Homo sapiens: one gene and its partner. The protein of the gene in region 1 purifies or fractionates together with the protein of each later gene. This does not show direct contact. Each region holds a gene or a part of one and is shown in the gene's direction. Other genes may lie near its edges.

The links.
Region 2: the proteins of BUD13 (region 1) and DHX8 purify together in Homo sapiens (co-immunoprecipitation; one large-scale study listed by IntAct). This does not show direct contact.

Annotation. Positions count from the first base shown.
Region 1 is NC_000011.10:116,752,470-116,756,024, reverse strand, and holds part of BUD13 (BUD13 homolog), read left to right. Parts: intron 1-3,555. UniProt on the Homo sapiens protein: Involved in pre-mRNA splicing as component of the activated spliceosome. As a component of the minor spliceosome, involved in the splicing of U12-type introns in pre-mRNAs.
Region 2 is NC_000017.11:43,500,920-43,504,474, forward strand, and holds part of DHX8 (ATP-dependent RNA helicase DHX8), read left to right. Parts: intron 1-3,555.

The DNA of each region.
Region 1 (3,555 bases):
CATTGACCAGGCTGGTCTTGAATTCTTGGGCTCATATGATTGTCTGCCTCGATTTCCCAAAGTGCTGGGATTACACGCTTGAGCCACCGTGCCTGGCCTACGCTCTTAAAAATTACTGATGACCTCAAAAAGCTTTTGTTGATGTGGATTATATATATTGATATTTACCATATTATAAATTAAAACTCAGACATTTAAAAAGTATTTATTCATTCAAAAAAAAATAAACTAATTATGTTAACATAATTACTGTATATTTAAATGAAAAATAATTACATTTTCCAAGTGAAAAAACAGAAGGATGGCATTGATTTACATTTTTGCAAATCTCATTAATGTCTGACTTAATAATAGGTAACTTGACTCTGTATTTGTCTGTTGTGATTTGTTCAGTTGAAGTATAGAAAGAAAATTTAGCCTCACACATAGGTAGTTAGAAAGAGAAGGCATATTATATTTCTTAATGTTACACAAAAACTCAACAAGTGCTGGTTTCTTAAAGGTGAGCTATGTGGAACCTGAAACCAGATCAAAGAACTTTCCTTACTGTTATATTAATTTTTTTAATACTTTGAGTGGATCTTTTACCCATGCATGATTTTATAACATCATGCATTGGTCATTTGTAAAATATTGGTTTGCTGAGTTGTTCAGACCTTCCAAATGTTGACATATTTCCACTATACAATATCAGAAAATCACTTTTGTTAACATCACTTCCGGTCTTATCACAAAACTCTTTAAATAATGGGAAGTTAAAGAGTTCACAGTTTTTCAGAATTCTAATTTACACTTGAAAGTTTAAATGTTATCACTGGCATTTCCATTGCTTGAGCTATTTCCATTTAATAGCTTAATTTCTCTGCTGAGATTTCCCATCTGTTCATTATGAGATATTTTCCTCTTCTTGAAAATATTTGTGATATGTAATTGGTGCTTTGAAGTCCTTCCTGTCTGTTAATTGCAACATTGGATTCACCACAGGATTGGTTTCTATATTGGCAGCTTTTTCTTCAGTGTGTATTACATTTTCCTGTTTATTTACCTGTCTGGTCACTTTTTTAAATTGTTACTGGACATCATGAATGATATACTGTAGAGACTTTGAGTTCTGTTACACTGTATTGTCAGTTGTTTTCCTTCAGGTAAAGCTCACTTTGTACAATAGCTTTTTATAGATTCCATCAGATTTTGTACCTAGAGGGTCTTCCATCTTTGCATACAGTTTAATTTCTTACTTTACAATCTAGATGCTTTTTGTTTCTTTTCCTTGCCCTGTTGCATTAGCTAGCACTTCAGTGCAGATGTTGAATAGAAGTAGTGAGAGCAGACATCTTTGCTTTGTTCCTAATCTCAGGAAGAAAACATTTAGTTTTTACAACACATTTATTAAATGTGTTGTAGCTGTATAGGTTTTTTGTAGATATCCTTTATGGAGTTAAAGTTCCCTTCTATTCCTGTTTTGCTGAGAGTTTTGTTTTCAGGAATGTATGTTGGATTTTGTTCAAAATATTTTCTAATTATCCTTTTGGTTTATTCTTTGCTCCATGGGTTATTTAGGAGTGCATTAATTCCAAATATTTGGACTTTTCTAGATATCTTACTGCTATTTACTTATAATTTAATTCCATTTTGGTCAGATAATATACTGTAATATTTTGATCTTTTGAAATTTGTTGGCCAGGCACAGTGGCTCATGCCTGTAATCCCAACATTTTGGGAGCCCAAGGCAGACGGATTGCTTGAGCCTAGGAGTTTGAGACCAGCCTGGGCAACATGGCAAAACCCTGTCTCTACAAAAAAATACAAAAATTAGTCGGGCATGGTGGCACACGCCTATAGTCCCAGCTACTGTGGAGGCTGAGGTGGGAGGATCACTGAGCCCAGGGAGGTCGAGGCTGCAATGTGCTGTGATTGCACCACTGCACTCCAGCCTGGATGACAGAGTGAGACCATGTATCAAAAAACAATAATAAAAATGAAATTTGTTAAGGTGTGTTTTATGGCCCAGTGGATAGTCTATCTTCTGAATGTTTCCTTTGCACTTGAAGAGAACGTATATTCTGTAGCTATATAAGGTAGTGTTTTATAAAAGTCAGTGAGGTCAAGGTGTTTAGATCTTAGATCGCCTGTATTCTGGGTTTTTTGTGTTTGTATTTTTCTATCAGTTACTATCAATTGTGGATTTTTTGTTTTAGCTGGTTTATTTTGTTTTTCAACTCTAAAATTTCCATTTAATAGCTTACATTTCTCTGCTGAGATTTCCCATCTGTTCATTATGAGACATTTTCCTCTTCTTGAAAATATTTATGATATGTAATTAGTGCTTTGAAGTCCTGTCTGCTAATTGCAACATTGGATTCACCACAGGATTGGTTTCTATTGACAGCTTTTTCTTCAGTGTGTATTACATTTTCCTGTTTATTTACCTGTCTGGTCACTTTTTAAAATTGTTACTACGCATCATGAATGATACACTGTAGAGACTTTGAGTTCTGTTACACTGTATTCCTCTTAAGTGTGTTAGTTTTTATTCTAGCAGGTAGTTAACATAGCTGAACTCCAAACTGTCTCCTTTGCAGTGGACGGCAGCTACAATCTTTGCTCAGTTCTTTTAGTTTCTAGCTGCCATTTTTTTAATTGGCCTGATGGTATTTTCTCTGCACATGTGTCATTTAACAGTTAGCCAAGGATTTGACTAGGGTTTGTATGTAGATTTTGAGGTTCATCTCTTTTGTAGTTCCTTCTCTTCCAAGATTTCCCCCCTAATTTCCTAGCTGTTCTGCCCACTTTGCACTAATTCCTCAAGCCAGTAAGCCTGTGGCTTTCTGCCTTCATGAGCCATGCTGTTTGGGAAGTTGCCCTCCAGCAAATCTCTTTTCACATATAGACTTCATCCAGTTCATACTTACTTTTGGTCACTCTTCCACACCTTCAAATACCTATTTTTTTTGTTTTGTCTAGGTTTTATAGTTGCTAACTGAGGATAGGTTAGTCTGTTCGGGTTACTCTGCAATGTCTAGAATCTGTCTCCCCACCTTATATGGGCCTAAGGCGTTGTCTTCTGTCCCTCGGGGTGCCGTCAAAATCCAACAGCCAGGTGTGGTGGCGTGTGTCTGTAGTACCAGCTATTTGGGAGGCTGAGGCAGGAAGATCGCTTGAACCCAGGAGTTTAAGTCCAGGCTAGGCAACATAGTGAGACCCCAACTCCAGAATAAAAAAATTTAAGGCTCTTCTTTCTGATATTGGCAGATATCTATAAGTTGACTGTAGTTCCTCATCTTGGCAGATATCTTTAGGGTAGCTGTGGTTACAGGCTAGCTTACTAGTTCCGTTTGCAGTTCACTGTATGTAGGCTTTTTGGTAGAAGGAGGATTTTTCAGAACACTCATTTGCCATACATACAGCCAGAAGTAGATCTTTTTATAGCACAACCCTACAGATGTTCCCTGCTACCGAGTTTTTGTTTTTTGTTTTTTAATTTTTGGACCCAAAACTTAGAATTCTCCCTGACCTAGTTTTTTTTTACTAGTATTTAATTTGTCTTCATTTTTC
Region 2 (3,555 bases), on another chromosome or scaffold:
TTTTTATTCTAAAGGTAATACAGCTTTGAAGCTTCCTTTTTCATATAATTCTTTGTGCAGTAAATATTAGCTACTAGATATAGTCATAACAAATACTTATTAATTTAATTTGTGTTTGGCAACTGGGGATACGATTTGAATTAAACAGATATGATCCCTGCTTTTATGCGCTACAACTTAGTCGGGGATATGGATATTAATTAAATAATCACCAAATAATTAAATTATGATCAGTGCCATGTGAAGAAGTACAGGCAGTGTAATTGACTGTGGTGGGTCACTTCCCTGGGGAAATCGAGACCCAAAGGATAAATTGGACTCAGTCTGTCAAGTGGAGATGGGATGGAGGTTGGGGAGTATGTTCCAGCCTGAGGAGTAGCCCGTGTTGGGTTTGTGGGGTGGGAAAGAAGGAACTGAAAGAAGGCTTGTGTGGATGGAATAGAGAGAGCAGTGGGCAGTGGTAGGGGATGAGATAAGAACATCAGGCCAGGGCTTTGTAGGTGGCATTAGGAAGCTGGGCTCAATTCTAATAGCACTGGGAGATGTTGAAAAGTTCTTTTGTTGTTGTTGTTTTTGTTTCTGAGACAGAGTTTTGCTCTTGTTGCCTAGGCTGGAGTGCAACACCATGATCTTGACTCACTGCAACCTCCACCTCCCTGGTTCAAGTGATTCTCCTGCCTCAGACTCCCAGGTAGCTGGGATTACAGGCATGCACCACCACGCCTAGCTAATTTTTTGTATTTTTAGTAGAGACGAGGTTCCTCCATGTTGGTCAGGCTGGTCTCGAACTCGCGACCTCAGGTGATCCCCCCCCCATCTCAGCCTCCCAAAGTGCCGGGATTACAAGTGTGAGCCACCGTGCCCAGCCAGATGTTGAAAGTTTGCAGCTGGCACATGGCATGACCAGAGTTGCATTTCCAAAGGATGATTGAGGGTGCCCTGCAGAATGAGTTGGATGGGGCACATGTGATGATTTAGAAAGCTTTTATGAAGAGAGAGAATGGTGGCTTGAACATGGAGGTAGCAAAGAGGAGGGATGTACTTGAGAAAAGTAATTTGTTGAATGTGGGGCAACAGGAATGGTCAAAGATGACTTCCAGGTTTCTGGTATGAGCACTAGGATGAATGATGGGAACACTGGAGGAGAAATGGGTTTGTGGGGAAAGATGGTCAAATTCCGTTTTGGACTTGTGTCCGAGGCAACTAGAGGACATCTTAGGTTGAGGTATCCAGTGTAGAATTGAGTATAAGAGCTCAGAAGAGAGGTCTGGGCTGGAGACAGAAGTTTGGGAATTGTGTTAATTTAGATATCAGTTTGGCTGCATGTAATAGAGATTCAAATATTAGATTAGGTTCGGCATGATGGCTCACGCCTGTAATCCCAACACTTTGGGAGGCCGAGGCAGGAGAATTGCTTGAGGCCAGGAGTTCAAGACCAGTCTGGGCAACATAGTAAGACCTTATCTGTATTTTATTTTATTTTGTTTTGTTTTGTTATTTTAGTTTAGTTTAGTTTAGTTTTTGAGATGGAGTCTCACTATGTTGCCCCAGCTGGAGTGCAGTGGTGCAGTCTTGGCTCACTGCAACCTCTGCCTCCTGGGTTCAAGCGATTCTCCTGCCTCAGCCTCAAGTAGCTGGGACTACAGGTGACCGCCACCACGCACGAGTAATTATTTTGCATTTTTGGTAGAGACAGCGTTTCACCATGTTGGTCAGGCTGGTCTCGAACTTCTGACCTCAAATGATCTTGCCCACCTTGGCCTCCCAAAGTGCTGGGATTACTGGTGAGCCACCGTGCCTAGCCCTTGTCTCTATTTTAAAATTAAATTTTTAAAAACGACAAAAATAAAAACCAAAATATTAGATTTACAGTAGAAGGTTGGACATATTCGTTCATTGTTTAACAATATCATCTTCCATTTCCTCAGAATAAACCCATTCATTCCCTTTTACCCTTTAGTGAAATGTTCTCCATGACCCTCCTTTGGCCTCTGCCTAAGCTCACTTATTTGGTTAGTAGGCATAAGTATTTTTTCGTAGCCAGCTTTTGGCATCAAATTTGTAAAATGTTTGCATATGCTAGAGAGCCACTAAAATTCTGCTCATTTTTTTTTGCTCCTCAAGCCACAATTCCAAGGTGAATCTTGAAAATATAAGCTAGGTCTGGGCAAGGTGGCTCACACCTGTAATCCCAGCACTTTGGGAGGCTGAGGCAGACAGATCACTTGAGTTGGGGAATTTGAAACCAAGCTGGGCAATGTGGTGAAACCCTGTCTCTAAAAAAATACAAAAATTAGTCCAGGCATGGTGGCTCATGCCTGTAATCCCAGCAGTTTGGGAGGCTGAGGCGGGTGGATCACCTGAGGTCAGGAGTTTGAGACCAGCCTAGCCAACATAGTGAAACCCCATCTGTGCTAAAAACAGAAAAATTAACAGATGTGGTGGCACGCACCTGTAATCCCAGCTGCTAGGGAGGCTGAGGCAAGAGAATCACTTGAACCTGGGAGGCGGAGGTTGCAGTGAGCCGAGATCACGCCATTGCACTCCAGCCTGGACAACAATTGCGAAACTCCATCTAAAAAAAAAAAAAAAAAGTTTAGCCGTGTGTAATCACGTGCACCTGTATTCCCAGCTACTCAGGAGGCTAACGTGGGAGGATTGCTTGAGCCCAGGAGGTGGAGGTTGCTGAGCTGAGATCTCGCCACTGCACTCCAGCCTGCTGGGCGTCTGAGCCAGACCCTGTCTCAGAAAAAGAAAAAAATTAATCTGAGAGAAACCAGGCACAACAGACCACATATTGTATGAAGTATCCAGAATAGAACCCGTAGACATAGAAAGTAGACTAATGGTTGCCAAGGGAAAGGAAAAGGGAGGAATGGGGAGTAACTGCTAATGGGTACAGGGTTTCTTTCTGATATGATGAAAATACTCTAAATAGTGGGGATAGTTGCACAACTTAATGAATATACAGTAAAACACTGAGTTAAACACTTAAAAAGAGTAACACGGAGACCTGGCTTGGTGGCTCATACCTGTAATCCCAGCACTTTGGGAGGCCAAGGAGAGAGGATTCCTTGAACCCAGGAATTTGAGGCTGCAGTGAGCCGTGATTGCGTCACTGCACTCCAGCCTGGGAAACAGAGCAAGACCCTGTCTCAAAAAAATAAAATAAAATAAAAAAAGTGTAACATGGTTTGTGAATTACATCTCGATATAGCAGTTATTTAAAAAGGGGAGAGTGCTGCGCATGGTGGCCATACCTGTAATTCCATTACTTTGGGAGGGTGAGATGGGTGGATTGCTTTAGCCCAGGAGTTCGAGACCAGCCTGGCAACATAGAGTGACCTCTTCTCGCTTGAGCCCAGAAGGTCGGGGCTGCAGTGAGTCAGGATTGCACCACTGCACTCCCACTTGGATGACAGAGCAAGACCCTACCTAAAAAAAAATAATTCCAGTGTCAAGCAGTCAGGTCTTCACTTCTCTCAACTAACCTTTTTTCTGACATCACAGGTGTGTAGCACCACTTGTTACAGTCTCTTTCCCATTCCCTGCTGC